Linked DNA regions of Homo sapiens. The protein of the gene in region 2 interacts with the protein of the main gene of each other region in a biochemical or structural test. Each region holds a gene or a part of one and is shown on either strand. Other genes may lie near its edges.

What was found.
Region 1: the proteins of RC3H1 (region 2) and UBE2G2 form a complex in vitro, tested with the Homo sapiens proteins (one study listed by BioGRID).
Region 3: the proteins of RC3H1 (region 2) and UBE2B form a complex in vitro, tested with the Homo sapiens proteins (one study listed by BioGRID).

What each region holds. Positions count from the first base shown.
Region 1 is NC_000021.9:44,766,674-44,771,149, forward strand, and holds the end of UBE2G2 (ubiquitin-conjugating enzyme E2 G2), read right to left. Parts: 3' UTR 1,907-4,476; downstream 1-1,906. UniProt on the Homo sapiens protein: Accepts ubiquitin from the E1 complex and catalyzes its covalent attachment to other proteins. In vitro catalyzes 'Lys-48'-linked polyubiquitination. Involved in endoplasmic reticulum-associated degradation (ERAD).
Region 2 is NC_000001.11:173,929,540-173,936,697, forward strand, and holds the end of RC3H1 (roquin-1), read right to left. Parts: 3' UTR 1,545-7,158; downstream 1-1,544. UniProt on the Homo sapiens protein: Post-transcriptional repressor of mRNAs containing a conserved stem loop motif, called constitutive decay element (CDE), which is often located in the 3'-UTR, as in HMGXB3, ICOS, IER3, NFKBID, NFKBIZ, PPP1R10, TNF, TNFRSF4 and in many more mRNAs.
Region 3 is NC_000005.10:134,374,240-134,382,974, reverse strand, and holds part of UBE2B (ubiquitin-conjugating enzyme E2 B), read right to left. Parts: intron 8,593-8,735; coding exon 8,512-8,592; intron 6,307-8,511; coding exon 6,281-6,306; intron 2,257-6,280; coding exon 2,167-2,256; intron 1-2,166. UniProt on the Homo sapiens protein: E2 ubiquitin-conjugating enzyme that accepts ubiquitin from the ubiquitin-activating enzyme E1 and transfers it to a E3 ubiquitin-protein ligase. In vitro catalyzes 'Lys-11'-, as well as 'Lys-48'- and 'Lys-63'-linked polyubiquitination.

The sequences.
Region 1 (4,476 bases), on a different chromosome or scaffold from region 2:
GGTTACAGATGTTCACCAGGGGATGACGAAGGGCATGGGCCAGCTGCCTCGGGGGCACCAGACCTGCCTCGGGGTACCAGACAGTTGGCACTGCCCAGTGGGTGGGTTCGGTGGGTGTTGAGGCCTGGAAGGTGTGTCTGGGATGGTGAGGGGGTACAGGCTATGGCTGGCTGAGTGGTGCCGGGGTTTGGGGGAGGAAGCTGGTGTTTCCTGCCTCTGCAGGGAGGTTCACCTTGCTTTGTCCCCTCAACAAAGCCAGGCTCTCGTGACAACGGGTCACAACCTGGACAGATCTGAGGAGCTGAACACCTCCAGCTTCCACAGGGCTCAGCCAGGACCTGGGCCCAACAGCATTCCCTCCCAGATGGGGCCACCACGCCACATCAGCACGACGAGACCTCCTCCCAGGGTGCCCCCCCCAGCCCAGGGTCCAGGCCCCAGGCCAACACCCAGAGGGGCTGGCTTTGTTCACAGCCCCTCTCCAAACCCTGCCCCCACCCCAAGCGGCCCCGCGGTCCCCTCCAGGGCAGGGTTTCCAGAATCCACCTGTCCTTAGTGTGTTCACTGCCCCTTGGCAGCCCCGAATTTTTGTACCTGTTTCCTGTCCCCTCCTTGTGTCCAGGTAGCATCCCCAGGGCCCTCGCCTCCAGCACAAATTCCAGCCTGCAGAAACCTTGTCAGCTCAGGGGGCCACGGTGCAAGGCACGCCCAGGGGAGGGAAGCTGGGGCTGCCCTGGGGTGCCTTTCTGTGCAGCTGGAGCAGTTCCATATCCTATGAAGAAACTGGTACAGAACAGCACTCCTCTGAAAAATTAGCAACCTCATCTACACAGAGACTGGACTGGAGAAGCCCCAGCAGGTGCAGCAATCCCAGAAGTGAGAGTCAGAGCTGTGGACGCCACCCTTGCTGTGGCCCAAGCAGTGAACTGGGGCCGCTAACCCCCAGGAAGGGTGAAAAGCCCCAACACCCAGAAGATGAGACCCTAGAGCTTCCCTGGCCACCCCAGCAGCCCTCCCCATCCCAGGAAGCAGACAGTTGCATGGGAAAAGCAAGGACGGCACTCAGCCAGACAGGCAAACAACTGTGGCAAACCAGTGCCAGCAGACAAAACCCAGAAACACAGAGCAAATGAAATGGTAAAAATCACTGTCAACCCCCAAGGTTATCTGCGCAGAAAGGGTCCATACAGTGGGGACGGCCGTCCTGAGGCCCGCTGGCCGGGCTGGCCCTTGGCTGGCGTCTGGGAACTGGGATTTCCGAGGGGCTCCCTGAACCCCGCCTCACTGGGCCTGTGCTATTTGTACAAGGTGGTTTAGGCAGAACACTCACATCCCTGCTGAGAGTCTGGAATTGTAGCGCAGCCCAGGCAGAAGCTGCTCACGTGACCAGCCCCCGGGTACATCACCAGGCAGGGCATCCCCAACATCGCACACGCAGAGTCCCAGCTGCTTGCAGGGGAGTGAGGCGCATCCTGCGTGACCCCCACCCCAGGAGAGGCCTCCAAAGCTGAGCATGGTGCCCCTGGACTCGGCCCCAGGAACCTTTCCCTTGGCCGATTTTGCTCAGTGTCCTCCCTGTGGGAAATCACAGCCGTGACTACCGTGACCTGCATGGCCTCTGTCCTCCTGGAGAATCGCCGCCCTGGGTGGTCTTGGGGACCCCAACTCAGTATCACATTAGAGTTCTTACCCATTAAAAAGAATGCTTAGTGAGAACACTGGGCAAAGGGCAGAACAGACATGCCTGGGGGCCTGTGCTGAGGCACTCGCCCAGTGCACCCCACCAGGAGCAGCCTGGGAACCAGCCCAGGGAACGAGGCGCCAGCACCTGGGGAAGCCTGGGGACCCTGCCTCACAGGATTACAAAGGAAAGCTGACCGCCAACTACCAAAACAGAAACAGCAAATCACTGACACAGGAATCTGCCTCTTTATTGACATGCTAAGTAACAAGACGCAGAGGCAGGTCTCATCGCAACCAACCGTGACCACAGAGGACCACAGAGGAGTGATGACAGGGAGCTGTGCTTCTAAGCAACTGCAGGAGGGAAGCGCAGTCGGAACAGCCTGCTGGCTTCTAGTGGTCAAATGTGCCACTCACACAATGGCATCTGCTGAAAAAGCTGCAAAATGTCATTTATAGGTTAGTGAACACATCCGTCTCACAGACCCCAACTAACCTGAGAATTCCAGAGGAAGACCACAGAATGACAGAAGGGAGATCAGAAACAGAAGAAAACATGCCAGAGCTAACCCAAGTCTGCAGAAAAGCCCCCACCGTGAGGAATCCCAGCTGGGATGATCTGGTGTGCTCCCTGGGGGCAGTGGCCACAGGCTCCTCTGACAATACGACAAAGGGACACACACTGCAGGGCAGGGAAAACACAGAACTTTATTTCAACAGTCATTAGGTTCCACCACACAACAGGGACACCATGGGATTGTTTTTTCATTTAATAAATACAAATGAATAAAAATACTTTATTTTGTCAAGAGACTGCCTCTCCTCCCTCTCCCGATCTCACAGAAGCCTCCAGGCAATTGTGTGCCCCTCCAGGGCCTGCACCCACAGACCCCGTCTACTTGCACAAATGACTCTTCTTTACAGAGAGGGCTCCATCTCATTTGCCTGCAAATACAACATAGGTATAATACCGCTCCTTTCCCCCATCTCCTTCCAAATACGAGTTCTTGCCCTGCGTTCCATTTTTTTTTTTTTTTTTTTTGAGACAGAGTCTCACTCTGTTGCCCAGGCTGGAGTGCAGTGGCGTGATCTCAGCTCACTGCAAGCTCCGCCTCCTGGGTTCACGCCATTCTCCTGCCTCAGTCTTCAGAGTAGCTGGGACTACAGGCGCCCGCCACCACGCCCGGCTAATTTTTTGTATTTTTAGTGGAGACAGGGTTTCACTGTTAGCCAGGATGGTCGCGATCTCCTGACCTCATGATCCGCCCGCCTCAGTCTCCCAAAGTGCTGGGATTGCAGGCGTGAGCCACAGCACCCAGCCTCCAAATTTTAAATGAGCCCCTTGTGAGAAGGAAAAGAATCTGCTGTCCACAGAAGCCAGGCGTGGAGCTACTTCAACCAGAAACTGTCACCCATGACACTCTGTGTGGGTTCAGTCACACAGACCACGATCCATTATGGAAGGGAGGGAGAAAAGGATCACATCAAATCTACTGTATGCCTCATAGACCATCCCTTATTTCAAAAATAGAAATTCCTATTTAAATGCCGCCCGTGTGCGACAGGCCTGATATTTGCTTCTGCATGTGGCAGATCTGTTATTGCTTACACTGTGGCCTCCTGGCCTGTGCTGCTCAGCTGGCCCTGTTAGAGAACATGGGAACCACATCAAAATCCTAAGTCACAAAACAAGGGCTCTGTCCCCAGCCTGGGCCCAGGGGCCCACATGCCCACCTCCACAGCCCAGTCAAGTGTGGGGATAAGGCACTCCTCTGTGCTCTGAGCTAAGATATGGTAGAGTCCCTTCTGAATTTTGAGTTGCAAAGAATGATTTTGTGCTAATAAATTCCCAGTGCATCCAAAATGTACAAAAACCCTAGAATTTCCAGTTTTTAGATTGAAAAAAAAAAATTTTTTCTGTAGATCCAGAAGAAACTTTCATTGAAACTTTAAAGACCTCACCTGCACCTGCTCTAGTAATGCACTAGTTACTAATATACAAACGTAAATCTTTGATGAGTATGGTCGGGAAAAAACTGTCTGTCCTTGTGATCAGCAATAAATTTCTTTTTTCTTTTTGAGACTGAGTCTCGCTCTGTTGCCCAGGCTGGAGTGCAGTGGCGGGACTTCAGCTCACTGCTACCTCTGCCTCCCGGGTTCAAGCGATTCTCCTGCCTCAGCCTCCTGAGTAGCTGAGACTACAGGCGTGCACCACCACGCCCAGCTAATTTTTTGTAATTTTAGCAGACATGGGGTTTCACTGTATTAGCCAGGATGGTCTCAATTTCCTGACCTTGTGATCTACCTGCCTTGGCCTCCCAAAGAGCTGGGATTACAGGCACGAACCACCGCACCTGGCCAATCAGCAATAAATTTCTTTTCTATTTACCCCATTTCTTATTAATTCACACTTCAAAAAAGCATTTCCTGGAAGTATTTCTAAGTGTGATGGTTTGTAATATATAACAAATGAAAAGATGTAATTAGATTATAAGAAAAGCATCTGCCTGTAAAATATGAAGGAAGAAAGGAAGTAATGGACTCCTCATGGGGCCCACAGGGAACCAGGAAGGACCCAGAAAGGGTGCCGGGCCCTTCCCCTGTGCTGCAGCTACAGGGCCCCATTTCTTCAGAAGGAGCGTTCTGGGTATTCCATCGTCCCCTGGAAGTCTGGCAGGTACAACCCCCTCAACACTCCAGGGAGGGAGGGAATCCACAGGAAGCCATGAACTGCTGGTTTCAGCGGGGAGAGGTAGTGCTGACAGCTCTGATAATCTACCTGAAGCCCTTTGT
Region 2 (7,158 bases):
TTACTATGGTCCCTTCCCTTGAGGTCAGATATACCAATGGACACCTAATCGCTAATTGTTGGTAGGAGAAGTAAATAACCTTCACTGGTAATGTGCATTATTGATTTTTTTTTTTTTTGGAGACGGAGTTTCACTCTTTGTTGCCCAGGCTGGGGTGCAGTGGTGTTAGCTCACCGCAACTTCTACCTCCCGAGTTCAAGCGATTTTCCTGCCTCAGCCTCCCGAGCAGCTGGGATTACAGGTGGCCACCACCATGCCCGGCTAATTTTTTTTTTTTTTTTTTTTTTTTTTTAGTAGAGATGGGGTTTCATCATGTTGGCCAGGCTGGTCTCAAACTCCTGGCCTCAGGTGATCTGCCTGCCTCGGCCTCCCAAAGTGCTGGGATTACAAGGTGTGAGCCACCGTGCGTGGCTGCATTATTTACTTTTTAAAAATATTTAGTTCCTACTTTAAAGGAAATTGCAGCTATTGTGTTATCCATCTTTATTAAAAAAATGGATTTTTTACATAATCATGTTTCACAATGAACGAAAATGCCATTCCTTGGTATCATCTAATGCCCAATACTTAATCAAATTTTCCTGTATACAAAAGTCTTTTGTGTATTTGGTTTGCTAAAATCACCTATGCTGCATTTGATTTTTGTACTTCTTACATTTCTTTTAATCTAGAATAATAGAGTCTCATTCCATTGCCCAGGCTGGTGTAGTGGTGCGATCAAGCATCATAGCTCATTGTAGCTTTGATCTCCTGGACTTTAGCAATCCTCCCGCCTCAGCCTCCTGAGTAGCTGGGACTACACACACGAGCCACCACACCCAACCTCCTCCCTTTTCTTCTTCATGCCATTGAGGTGTTGACTAACGTATGGTCTCTATTAGACAAACTTACTTATATCCACTAACTTCGAGGAATGACTAATGGGTGGGGATTTCAGGACAATCAGAAGTCAGCAAGAATGGGAAGACAAGGCTGGGCATAGTGGCTCATGCCTGTAATCCCAGCACTTTGGGAGGCTGAGGCGGGCAGATCGCTTGACATCAGGAGTTTGAGACCAGCCTGGCCAACATGGTGAAACCCCATCTCTACTAAAAATGTAAAAATTAGCTGGGCATGGTGGCGCAGGCCTATATTCTCAGCTACTTGGGAGGCTGAGGCAAGAGAATTGCTTGAACTGGGGAGGCAGAGGCTGCAGTGAGCTGAGATTGTGCCCCTGCACTCCAGCCTGGACAACAGAGCAAGACACCATCTCAAAAAAAAAAAAAAAAAATGGAAAGACAAAAAAACATTTTGCATCAGGAAGTTACCATGACAAGTCCTTTTCACTTAAGCATAAAGATGGTCCTAATTTTCAGAAGCGCCATAAAAACCGAGACACTGGATGTTAGCCATTGAATCTCATTGAATTGATGCTAGTATCTCAGAACCACTACCCTCACTCCTAATGTGCAATCACTGTGTGACAAATGAAGGAATATGACTGTAGCTTATTTAAGATTGGACTAATTCCTGTGATGTCCACACAAAATTGGCTACTCCAAGTATGTGTTTGCTCATGCAGATTAGCCATTTCTTTATTTTTCACCTAAAAAAGCCCCCTCCATTAAAAACGTGTAAGAAAGTAATCTCAAGATTAGAATAAGATGGCACACACTCATTTACAAAATACACACGTTCCTCATTAATTTATCATTTAATATAAATGCTGACAGAAAGCAGATAAAGACCTTGTAGACATTTTCATATATTTACAATCCAAAAGGTGAATCACCTCCTTCTACTTGTTAAAATAAATCATTTTATCTGCAACTCATGGGAGCCTTAAACACTAATTAGGAGCAACATGAGGCTGAGTCAGTTTCCAAGGTAATAAAGGAAATAGCATTTTAACAAAATGGGCATCTTTGATATAAACATGCACACAAATAATACAAAATTGAGAAAGATGGCCCTAGTACTCTCAAAAATCGGCAACAAGTGGGAACATGTACTTATTTAGACCCAGAGTTCTGCTGCCCTAAACATCTTCCTACTACTATTTCTTTTTTTCCACCACACTTGTTTTGAAAGCTGCTTAAAAATCAGAAATATTAAACAGATTAAAAACAAGAGAAAAACGGTCTATTTCAAATAGGGTTCTTTTTCCTACTCCAAAAGAACTCTCAGGAGATAAGGTCTTCAAATAAGACTTCACGGTTTGCCAGATCCTAAGGAATTATTCACAGCCTGTGAAATTCCAATCCATTTGTCTTCACCATTCCAACCTATTTGTCTTCACTTCTCTTTTTAAAGTTGGAAACACTTGGAAAAAGTAAAATTTCACAAAATTCAGCAATTAAAAAATCAGCTGTCACTTTAAGGCTCAATTTTTTTTTTTCCTGAACAGGGGGGTGGAGGCAGGCAAGAAAGAATAGGGAGCTGTGGCAATAAAAAAACAAAAAAATGCAAGAAAACTTTAAAAAATGGTAAGTCTACCACTGATTTATAAGAGCAGGAGTATAAATTCTATCCAAAAGTGTAAGTGATTTCACTTACAACCTGACTCAAATCTCATGGGCTCCTTTATTAACCAAGATTATTTTTGTCTTGTTAAATATACCTCTGCAGGGCACAATCACTTACAATCAATACGATTGGTAAATTACACAAGCTCTATCCCAAGCAAATATGCACCAATGTTAAAAAGTTATTTTTTTAAAAAAAACAAAATAAAACAAAATAAAATCCACCCAAAAAGGTGATAATGACTGCAGAATGTCTCGGGGAGACTGATATGAGCCTAAAGACCAAATTACCATAGTCAGAGAAAAAGGGCAGAAGGGGTAACAAGGGGAAGACACCACAAACACGAAGAGGAATCTCAAAACTGGAAAATGTTTAAGTGGGTGAAAGGTTTTGTTCATTACCTTAATTCACTTTTTCCATTGTTCTTGTACCAAAAAGTCATAGATTAATCATAAAGAAAGATAATGAGACCTGTGGACTAATTAATTTTTTTAAAAAAGTTCCTTTTATTCCCAGGAAGCAGGGAAGAGGAAAAAGGATGAACAGGGGAGAAGTGTGAAAATTTAGGCCAACGATCCATCTGGAAAAAATAACTCTCAAGACAGTGTCTTAGTTGAATAGAGGATGTAAAAACGATAAGCAAAAGCTAAATGCCTTTAAGTCAGAGAATTATTTTATGGGGTAGTTCAGATATTATAAGAATGACAGCCAATCAATGGAGAAAGATTACACAAATAAATGGTGATTAAAAAAAGGCAAATAATAATAATAATAATAATAGAGCAACCAATTATTCACCCAATAGTTTGTTTCCAATCTTTTTCTTGACTCTTTCATACACTCACTGGGGTGGGGGACCACCTGACAGTTTCCAGTTATAAGATGACTCTGAGTGTACAACCTAAAATGGATGCCAAAGACTTGTGAGCTCTGTCTGCTTAGAGTTAGAACAGAAACAAAAACAAATCTGAAACAGTAAGACCTCAATACAAGAAAACAAGTCACCTTATCTAGTATAAAATAAACATTAGGATAACAAACTCCACAGGATTTTATTTTTCTAAATACACATTTTTGGACACGATATTATGTTGAGGTTTAAGTTCTTCCCCCTTATTGTGCCTTATTTTCTTGTGAAAATAAAGTTCGTTCTCTAGGGATGTTTCAGGGATAAAGTTTAGGAGAAATTCAGTGTTTGGCTGAAAATCCAGAGGCTCTGAAAACAAGGATTCCAGTGGTGAGGTAAGTCCCTTTATTACAATAAGATTTCAAAGGGCTCTTTACCCACTTTGTTCAGTGCAGTATTGAAAACATACCTATTAGGAATAGATTTATTATTAAAAGGTGTTACTTATTCCTGGTGGTGATAGTCTTACTCTTTATTAACACTATAGCTAGTATTACTTATCAATTATAATCTATTACTTGTGGAAAGATCTTTAGTGAACACAGAAATAAAATCTTAAAAATTCAAATCTTAAGATTTACTTGCTACAATTAATAGTACCTTTTGACAAAAACAGCTTTCTTCTTGAAGTGGCTCAGAAAAGCTAAATTGAGAAAATGTTTAATAGTAACTATAATCAACCTACAACTCCCAATAAGTCATTTCAGCAGGAAAATTTCATAAACCTGAGCTGAAGCAACAAATAAATATAAAAATCATAGCTGTCCAAGGTAGAAAGGTATGAATGTGGATCAGCAAAATGGGCACTCAGGTAAAATGATGACAGTAGTAGACTGCTTGCTTGTTTAGGTGCTAATGATGAAAGTAAAATTTGCTTTAGTTTAGTAGGTCTAATTTTTCTTAAAAGGATAGGCAGATTTTTCAGGGGAAGAGATCACCTTGCAACACTGTAACCATATCATCAGTTAAAAATTTAACACACTTAGACTCTTATTAGGGGGAAAAAATCTAAGTAAACACTGCAGTTAATTTCCAGGTAGGTTATTAATCTCTCCTAAAAAGTAACTGGGCCATTCCTTTCAATGACATATAAATCGTTACAGGTGCTTTTTACAGATAGATTTTACAAATAAAACCTTTACTCAATTATTTAAAACGAGCAAAAAGAGAGTAGAAAAATGGTGAGACTGCTACCCACCACCATTTGTATGTAAGTGACAGCAACTGAATACTTCTTTACTGAGACGAATCCTTTTTTTTAGTGAAAGTATTTTGTCTTGAATTTTAACAATCTGTACATGTACTGACTATAGTTAGTTATTTCTCACCAGTCACATACTCAAGAATTCTTTTACTCAGACCCATGACTTGACCACAGTGATAGCAGAAGCTGGGGTGGGCACAAATGCTTATACACAATATTACAAAAGACGACATTCACTGGCTTAGAGAAACTGATGAATTTTCATTACTTTTACATTTTATAAGGCTAGCTAACTTTAACAGTTAACTTTAGATAAATCTACTTACACAGTACAATCAACTCACAAATACTAAAAGGTTTCATGATCAAAATGGCTACTACTTCCCCCAAAACCAAAACAGAGTAAAGCACAAGTCTTTGGCTCTCCTTTAAAGAAAACAGCAGGTTACCATTCTTAACCAGACCTTTGTTTGCCTACCAGTAGGGCAAATACCACATTTGTGCATCACTGAGTAATAACACCATTAGAAAAGGCAACTTCACAGAAGTTATTGGCTAAGCGAATTCATTTGAATGCTCTGTTTTGAGGCAGCAAACTGTCACTGTTGCAGATTGGGGAGGGCAGTGGGTAAGTCAAGGGGAAATTACAGGGTGGAAAAAGGTCAAGAAAAAAAAAGACATATATGGAAAAATGTAAACTTTGAGCTCCATCCCTGAAGAACTCTGGAAAGTCTGATGGAGTTATATACTCAAAGTAGCAAATGAGAATCATACCAATATTCTTTTAGGCAAAAGAAATACATGGGAAAGAATAGAAGGGAAGGGAAATAAGATGGGAGAAAGGAATCACCAACATTAATGCTGTACCAAACAATTTTTTAAATACATTCTGAGTAGTTGAATATTTGTAGTTGGCATTAGGAATAATGTCTTATCAATATCTAGAATACTACTACTAGAAATCTAGCTAACTCTTCTTTTAATTAGAAAAGTAATAAGGAATGGATCTTTGGTCACTTCAGCCTCTGTACGTTATCTAAGACAGGACAGTTACTGGACTTATCTTATGACAAAATTATATATAAATTAGGCAAAAGAGCTACATATAAACCAGAAATGGAATCTAGATGTCTTATTCTCAGTTCTTCTACCCTTTCCTAGCGACTCCTTGAAAAAAGAGTAAGTCAAAATACTTTTATATTTCTCGCTATAAATAAAATTCCCTCACCTATGTATGAGTGAACACAATGCTTATTACTCCTACCTTAACCCATTCAAAATTGTTCATCTCAGATATCTGATTTTTGCTTTGGAATTTAGTGAAATACAAATAAAGTAATATTTAGAAGAAACTAATATTTTAGTAAGTAGAAAACATAAAAACTGTATTTCCTATCTGGTTTCATCTTTGTCTCTAAAAAAAAAAATTAAAAAGCCAGAAGCAATTAATACCTTTTCAATTTTGATTTTAAAAAAGTAGTTACAGAGTCAAGCAGTTATGCCCAAATATGCCATTTGTCCTTACAGGCTCATGATATCACAGAGAAAAGGAAAAGGAAAAAAAGCAAAAAACAAAAAACAAATTTTGGGGGTGTTAGTGAATTCCTAAAACCGCTGATGAGCACTAGGAAAGCTGCAAGAATTTCCATTAGGTAAGGTGGAATGACCAATTTAAAATACATTATAGGCACAATGGGACAATATACCATCCTTCTGCCTTTCTGCCCAACCAGATTAGCTCTAGAGTGTAGGACCATGGAGGGGTACAGCTTGAATTCAGGTTACAATTAAAGAGATTTTTTTTCCCCCAAATGAAAATACATGAAAAGAGAAAGATACTATTTTAAGTCAAGTTTATACAGTGACTTTTCTGGTTTTGTTCAGAACAGGAATACTGTATAAATTAATCCCTGCTCCTGCCTACTTCACAGAATCAAAATGGCAAAAGCCAAGAACAAGTGTATTTAAAGGAAATGAGAACAAGAATAACAGAAACTGAGTTACTAAGGGGTTTCAACTGATATCCAAAATGAATCTTTACTTTTATTTTAAACTTAAACAAAAATTAATACCCACAAATTATCTTCTAATACAAGAATCATTCTGAATTCCAAAGTGAATCAACTGCTTCTAAAATTTAGGATGATCTGACATACCCAAAGGAGAAGATCAGTCCAAATCTGCTTATAAGAAGGTTGTAGTACAAAAATTAGCTGGACGTGGTGGCGCGTGCCTGTAGTCCCAGCTACTCAGGAGGCTGAGGCAGGAGAATCGCTTGAACCCGGGAGGTGGAGGTTGTAGCGAGCCGAGATCAACCCACTGCACTCCAGCCTGGGCAACAGAAGCAGACTCCCTCTCCAAAAAAAAAAAAAAAAAAAAAAAAAGAAGGTTGGAGGCCAATAATGTTGCCTTTTACTGTTATGCAGAGAAATGAAAAATCTTGGGACTCTGTCAGACATACAAAAGTTTCTTTCCTTCTCCCAATAAACAATAGGCATTTAAAGTGGAAATGTAAAAGGGTTTTAAGTAAAAGTCAAAAAGC
Region 3 (8,735 bases), on a different chromosome or scaffold from region 2:
CAGGATGGTCTTGATCTCTTGACCTCATGATCCACCTGCCTTGGCCTCCCAAAGTGCTAGGATTACAGGCGTGAGCCACTGCACTCAGCCCAGAATATTTATTAAGGAAAATGTTCACAGTATATTAAAAAAACAAAAACAAACAAACCAAAAAAAACACCTTATTTTATATATAACATCCCAATTTTCTTTTTTTTTTTTGAGATAGGGTCTTGCTTTGTCACCCAGGATGGAGAGCGGTGGCACAATCATGGCTTGCTACAGCCTCAACCTCCCAGGCTCCAGCAATTCTCCCACCTCGGCCTCCCTAGTAGCTGGGAATACAGGTACGCACCACTGTGCCCAGCTAATTTTTGTATTTTTTGTAGAGACAGGGTTTCACCATGTTGCCTAAGCTGGTCTTGAACTCCTGGGCTCAAGCAATCCACCCTCCTCAGCCTTCCAAAGTGCTGGAATTAATAGGCATGAACCACTGTGTGTGGTCATTGACTCCAACTTTGTATATGCAAAATTGTACTTTTGAGATAGAATCTTGCTCTGTTGCCCAGGCTAGAGTGCAGTGGCACAGTCATGGCTCACTGCAGCCTTGACCTCCTGGGCTCAAGTGATCCTCTCACCTCAGCCTCCATAAGTAGCTGAGACTACAGGTGTGCGCCACCATGCCTTGATATTTTTTTTGTTTTTTATAGGGATGGGACCTCGCTATGTTGCCCAGGCTGGTCTCTGACTCCTGGTCTCAAGCAACCTTCCCACCTTGGCCTCCCAAGGTGCTGGGATTATAGGTATGAACCACCACGCCTGGCCAAAATTGTATTTTTGAAAAGCTTAATTTTAGCCAACAGATTTTTCTTATTTTTCACAATTCCACAAATAAATAGATAATACTTTTATCTATTTCTTTTAGTAGAGACAGGATCTTACTATGTTACCTAGGCTGGCCTCAAGCCACCCTCCTGCCTTAGCCTCTGGAGTAGCTGGGACTACAGGTGTGCACCACTGTGCCTGGCTTACATATTACCTTTGTTTTTTTGGAGACAGAGTCTTGGTTTGTCACCCAGGCTGAAGTGCAGTGTTGTGAGCTCAGCTCACTGCAACCTCCGTCTCCCAGGTTCAAGTGATTCTCCTGTCTCAGCCTCCTGAGTAGCTGAGATTACAGGTGCCCACCATCATGCCTGACTAATTTTTGTATTTTTAGTAGTGATGGGGTTTCACCATGTTGGCCGGGCTGGTCTCAAACTCCTGACCTCAGGTGATCCGCCCACCTTGGCCTCCCAAAGTGCTGAGTTTATAGGTATGAGCCACCATGCCCGACCATGTATTACTTTTAATTCAGGAGTTATTAAAACAACTTGACCTCAAATTTGGAAGCTTTGTAAGAGTCTAGCTACAGAAACATAGCTAAAGGCTGGAAAAAATGGCCCATTCCTGTAATCACAGTGCTTTGGGAGGTCAAAGTGGGAGGACTGCTTGAGGCTAGGAGTTCAAGGACCAGCCTGGGCAACACACAGAGACTTTGTGTCTACAAAAAAGAAAAAGAAAACAAACAAAAAAATTAGCTGGGCATGGTGGTCCACACCTGTCGTCCCAGCTAGTTAGGAGTCTGAGGCAGGAGGATTACTTGAACCCAGGAGTTTGAGGTAACAGTGAACTGTGACTGTACCACTGCACTCCAGCAGGGGTGACAGAGTATAACTTTGTCTCTGAAGAAATAAGAAACAAACCAAAAATCCACAACAAACCCAGCACTTTGGGAGGCCAAGGTGGGCAGATCACAAGGTCAGGAGATCGAGACCATCCTGGCTAACATGGTGAAACCCCGTCTCTACTAAAAATATAAAAAATTAGCCAGGCGTGGTGGTGGACGCCTGTAGTCCCAGCTACTCACAAGGCTGAGGCAGGAGAATGGCGTGAACCCGGGAGGCGGAGCTTGCAGTGAGCCGAGATCGCGCCACTGCACTCCAGCCTGGGCGACAGAGCGAGACTCCGTCTCAAAAAAAAAAAAAAAAAAAAAAAAAAAAATCCACAACAAAATACGTGGCTCACATGGACATGGAAGCAACACCTACAAGTGAGCCCTAACAGTAAAAAGTAAGGTGAAAGAGCTAAAAGGAGGGAAACAACTCTTTTCCCCACTATCATCTGCAAAATCTATAAAATGCTACTTACCATTTGGATGAAACATTTTGGATAAAAACCTAACAGTTGGTGGTTTATTTGGATATTCTTCAGAAAATTCTATTACTAGTTTAAAAGTACCTAGAGAGAAAACAAAATAATTATAGTAAAGACAAGCACGACTTTTTAATCTCTTCATCAGTTCTCAACTGCATACTGGTTTTTGTACAACCACATAAAAGTTAGTATGTCAACGTTGGTTCGGCATACAAAACATCCTAAATATACTCTATTTATGTTAGAATGGTAACACGCAGCATTGGCAAGCGGTTGGGGAACAAGCACATTCATGTTGCTATTGGTGGGAGTGTTAACTGTCATATTTTTGGAAGGCAACTAGGCCCTAGCTACCAAGATTTAAAATGCATATTTGAAGAACTACAAATAGTTTATTATAGCTTAGAATGGGAGTTGGTTAAAGGATTTTGAGAGGGTCTGACTACCACATGGCAAAGGACCCTCCCAGGAGGTGGAGGTTGCAGTGAGCCCAGATCATGCCGCTATGCTCTGGCATGGGTGACAAAGCAAGACTCCGTCTCACACACACAAAAAAACTTTAACTCAGAAAATCTTCATTAAAAATAACTGTAGCCAGGTGGGGTGGCTCACGCCTGTAATTCCAGCACTTTGGGAGGCTAAGGTGGGCGGATCACCTGAGGTCAGGAGTTGAGACTAGCCTGGCCAACGTGGTCAAACTCCACCTCTACTAAAAGTACAAAAATGAGCTGGGTATGGGGGTGCCTGTAATCTCAGCTACTCAGGAGGGTGAGGCAAGAGAATTGCTTGAACCTGGGAGGCGGAGGTTGCTGTGAGCAGAGATCGCGCCATTGCACTCTAGTCTGGGTGACAAGAGCAAGACTCTGTCTCCAAAAAAAAAAGGTAGGTTAAACTGCAAACCCATTACACAGAATATAAATTAAAATTATATTTCTCCCCAAGTTGGTGATAAGTGTAAGCAATGTTTTACATATTTGCAACTGTCTCTTTAATGACTGGCTTAACAGAAGATAGCTGGATTCTCTTATCTGCTTCTGCACTCCATCTATTACAATACCGTTTAGTTTAAGTACATGAAGAAAATCTGGCCTCACACAAATATGTACTTGAAAAAAGGAGTACTTTCTTTCTTTCTTCCTTTTTTTTTTTTTTTTTTGTTGAGACAGAGTCTCACTGTTGCCCAGGCTGGAGTGCAATGGCACCATCTCAGCTTACTGCAGCCTCCGTCTCCTGGGTTCAAGCAATTCTCCTGCCTCAGCCTCTGGGGTAGCTGAGATTACAGGCACGTGCCATCCCGCCTGGCTCATTTTTGTATTTTTAGTAGAGACGACGTTTCACCATGTTGGCCAGGCTGGTCTTGAACTCCTGACCTCAGGTGATCTGCCCACCTTGGCCTCCCAAAGTGCTGGGATTACAGGCATGAACCACTGCACCCAGCAAAAAAAGTAGTATTTGAATAGCTTTTTCAGGTGACTGTAGCTATTCTGTTTTGATATTATACCAAAGAAGAAATGGTAGTTCTTTTAAAGGTTTGCTGCAATATAGAATCTGAAATTATTAGTCAACTTTTTGTACTCAGTTACATTAAAATCTGTTCACTTCACATACGTGTTTTACCCATTCATGGTTTTGTATTATTATTCATGGGACATCTGCAAAATATTGGGTGACTCGAGTTTACAGATCCTCCAAATGTTGCCATATTCCATTATATACTATCAAAAAAATCACAACAGGTAACACTACCCACTAATCTCATCAAAAAGTAAGTATCAGGAAGCTGTTATTTTATCAACAGCAACAAATATCTTCAGTTGCTATCCTTAACCTAACAACCCACTTAGATCCCCCCACTGTTTTTTTTTTTTTTTTTTGAGATGGAGTCTTGCTCTGTTGTCCAGGCTAGGGTGCAATGGTGCGATCTTGGCGCACTGCAACCTCTGCCTCCCAGGTTCAAGCAATTCTCCTGCCTCAGTCTCCCGAGTAGCTGGGATTACAGGTGCCCGCCACCACACCGAGCTTATTACATTACTTCTGAGAATATGTCTGCCATATATTCAAACCTGAATAACCACAGCTTGTCTGTATTTTCAAGTAAAAAATGTTCCATGAAAAAAAGTCATTCAAATTGCAACTCAAACAACTGTAGAAGTGCTTTTCTTCCAGACAACTATCATACTATGACATGCAGAAGTGCTTTGTTCATACATTCTACTTCATATCATACAGAATATTAAAAAGACAGATACTCGGCTGGGTGTGGCTCATGCCTCAGCACTTCGGGTGGCCAAGGTGGGCAGATCACCTGAGGTCAGGAGTTTAAGGCCCCAGCCTGGCCAACATGGTGAAACCCCATCTCTACTAAAAATACAAAAATTAGCCGGGCATGGTAGCACATGTCTGTAATCCCAGCTACTTGGAAGGCTGAGGCACGAGAATCACTTGAACCTCGGAGGCGGAGGCTTCAGTGAGCCAAGATTGCGCCTCTGCACTCCAGCCTGGGTGAGAGAGCGAGACAAAAAACAAAAAACAAACAAAAAAAACCCACATAGATACTCAAGGGTCCAGAGCTTCCTAATACTAATAAAAATGTCTTTAAATTAAGAAATTAAGAAAAATTGGTAACTTTTTTAAAGACAAGGTCTCACTCTGTCACCCAGGCTGGAGCTCAGTGGCTCCACCAGGGCTCACTGCAGCCTTGACCTCTTGGGCTCAGGTAATCCTCCCAAGTAGCTGGGACTAAAGGCATGTACCACCATGCCTGGCTAATTTTTTGTAGAGAAGGGCTCCCCCAGGCTGGTCTCAAACTCCTGGGCTCAAGTGATCCATGATCCACCTGCCTAAGCCTCCCAAAGTGCTGGCTATACAGGTGTGAGCTACTGCCCCTGGCCAACTGGCATCTTTTAAAATGCAAAGAATATAATCACTATTAGTATGGTTTGGTGCCACTGTCTAATGCCTTGATTTGTTCTAAGATACGAAACTACTTAGGTGTAGTTATAGCCACCATTGGTTTTGTACCATCAATGCAAAGGTCAACAGTCTTAGTATGATGAGATTTGATCGTATGGGTCCCCCGAGAGGGTCTCCAAGACCCCAAGGGGTTTATGGATCACACACTTGAGAACCCTTGATGTAGAGAAAAAAGGTAACGTCCTTAAGTACCTCCTTCAACTCCTTACCCCCCCCACAGATAATCACTGGTAACAGTTTGATATATAACCCTTTAACATAGACACACATGCATATATGTATTTGCTAAAAATGTGATGCTACGACAAACATTATCGTGCAGTTTTTTTGTCCTCTTAAGACAGTATGTCCAAATCTACCTTATTCTTTAACAGGTACATATTCCAGAATCCAGATACATCATAATTTGCTTAACCATTTCTCCTACTGGACATTCAGGTTACGTCCTTACAAACTGCTGCAGTCAGTATTCTCGGATAAATATTTTTGATGGATTAATTCTGAAGTCATTTTGTTAATGATAACAAAGATGTTTAATAATTTCTTAAAATCCAACACTACAATTGGGAAAAGTCTAAGTTCCTGGTTAAAATCAGTTTGATAAGTTCAATTATAAATTCGGTATTAGAACTAGTTTCCCATTTTCCTAGCCCCTGATGAAAATACCCAACTTGAGATGCCAAAGATTATGCAAAATGATAACTACTTATGGGTGTTAAATGCTAGTAGTACTTGAAACTACTGGCAGCTATGTATGTTTATGAAAAATTTCAGCTCAACACCCTGTCAATATCAAAGATAACAAAGTAAAAAAGCATGATTTACTCTTCTGGTGTTCACCTCAGAGATATCTTTAAGGCCACCTAAATTTAAACTATTCTCAACATAAACACTGCCATCCAGGCTTACAGTTATACAGGAAAATATTAAAGTAACCTTTAATATTGGTTACCAATGGAGGTGACCAAGCTGCTGTGGGAAGAAGTCCCTTATGAAGTATAAATTTTCCATAGCTTTACTTTTAACTTGGCCTATTAACCATAGAAAATGGCTTCAAGTAGATATGTTGGTGTTACAATTTTCTACTAAAAAGTAACCTCATAACACTATAGAAAACATAATGAGTATGACTTACCATCTTCAAAAGGTGTCCCTTCTGGTCTGAAAACAAGAAGATTTCTGATTAAAAGAAGTTTCTCATTCTGCTTTTTCTTGATTTTCAAGAATGGAAAGGATAAACTTCAACAGAAAAAGAGGGACTCATTCTGATGATTTGTGGAGTTTTAAGATAGAGTTTAGTAACACCTTAGCCCTGGATTTTCATAGACCCAGGCATAAAGTATTAACTTTCATTCTAAGCTTTCTTTTTAGGGTGGTTTTACCAAACCAAACAAAAAAACTTGCCCATAATTTTAGCACAAAAAAACTTTCATTAATACTGACCAGTCATTTTGTACATATGTGTATATATATATATATATTTTTTTTTTTTTTTTTTTTTTTTTTTGAGACGGAGTTTTGCTCTTGTCCCCCAGGCTGGAGTGCAATGGCATGATCTCAGCTCACTGCAACCTCCTTCTCCTGGATTCAAGTGATTCTCCTACCTCAACCTCCCGAGTAGGTGGGATTACAGATGCCTGGCTAATTTTTGTATTTTTAGTAGAAACGGGGTTTCACCATATTGGCCAGGCTGGTTTCGAACTCCTGACCTCAGGTGATCCACTCATCGCAGCCTCCCAAAGTGCTGGGATTTAGAGGCGTGAGCCACCGCACCTGGCCCATATGTATATTCTTAAGAGGAAAAGACATCTTTTCATTTTACAGCAATATGATGTAAAGCAATACTCTAGTTATGATGCTAAACCCAAGTGTCCTGCTTTCCAATGGAGCCATAACTCTTGTTCAAATAGGCTAAGCATAGTTGTCACCAAAAAGCCAGATTTGTTTGCTCAGATCCTTGTCCCCACATCCCAATTTCATCTTTCCTAAGCAGCAGCATAAAGTTTTTTTTTTTTTTTTTTTTTTTTTTTTTGAGACGGAGTCTCGCTGTCGCCCAGGCTGGAGTGCAGTGGCGCAATCTCGGCTCACTGCAGCCTCCGCCCCCTGGGGTTCACGCCATTCTCCTGCCTCAGCCTCCCGAGTAGCTGGGACTACAGGCGCCCGCCACCTCGCCCGGCTAATTTTTTTTTGTATTTTCAGTAGAGACGGGGTTTCACCGTGTTAGCCAGGATGGAGCATAAAGTTTAATTATTACTTGCAAGGCATATTCAGGATCTCAAAGCAGCAGGATAATATCCTGAAGGTGCCATGTATTCAACTCAAATTCAGAAGTACTTTATGAGGATGAACTTCACTCATTTTCCACTAGTCTTTAAATGTAGACTCTTGTAGCTGATTCTGTAGTGTCAGAATTCTGTTTATCAACATACTCCTTTTACTTTTTAATGCAAAACTCTAGTTTCAAAGGAATGAAAGAAAAAATAGATCAAGTCTAGAAAAACCAAAGAAAAAGCATAAGGAAATTTTAAATTAAAAAGCATATACGCAATATACATAGTAGGTAAAATTTACAACTGCTTCTCAAATGGCTGCATTCTGTTATTTCACACTGGGCTGTGAATCATTTTCGCTTAAATTCTTGCCACAGTGGAAGTTCTTAATATTTTTGGTTCCAAACCTTTTAACAGCTCCAACAGAATGAGAGCATTTGCGTGATATGTTTTATATAAAGTAACTTATTGTTTCTCCTTTATTATTCCATTCCATTTAGTTTTGAATAGTATTTTAAAAGTAAAACCCCAAGAGATTATAAAACCATATGTAATAACATCAAAGAGCAAATAAACTTTATATAACTGCTGAAACTTTTTCCTTTTTTTTTTTGATACAGGATCTTGGCTCTGCTGGCTGCCCATGTTGGAGGGCAGTGGCACAATCATGGCACACTGCAGCCTCAAACTTCTGGGCTCAAGTGATCCTCCTGCCTCAGCCTTCCAAGTAGCTGGGACCACAGGTATGCACCACCATGCTCAGCTAGTTTTATACTTTTTGTAGAGACAAGGGCTCACTATGTTGCCCAGACTGGGCCAAAACTTTTTTTGGTGGGGAGGGGACAGAGTCTCACTGTCTCACTATATCGCCCAGGCTGGTGAACTCCTGGGCTCCAGCGATCCTCCCAGGCGTTGAGCTACTACTGTGCTGGGCCAAAACTCTAATTGAAATATTTTTTTTTTCTAATTTATCTTGCAGTTTTAGTCCTTAAGATCTCTCATTCCACCTCAGTTTCTTTTCCTAGACAGTTGTTATATGTTTACTTTTCTTAAAGATTCAGCACACACCTATTATTTGTTAAACCTTTCAACTCACCCAAATATAACTGCATTCCACTGCATGATGTTGTTTTCAGATGGTGCGCCACTGACACCCACAGGTGGGTCCTCTTGTAACCTGGAAATCCAGCGTGGTAATTTAAAAAGTTGAACATTAAGGCCACTAAGGAGGCCACGTAAACACCTACAGACACTATACCATCTATTTTGAGACACAGACTAACTCCATTTCCTTGTTATTGTGAACTAAAATGAACCATA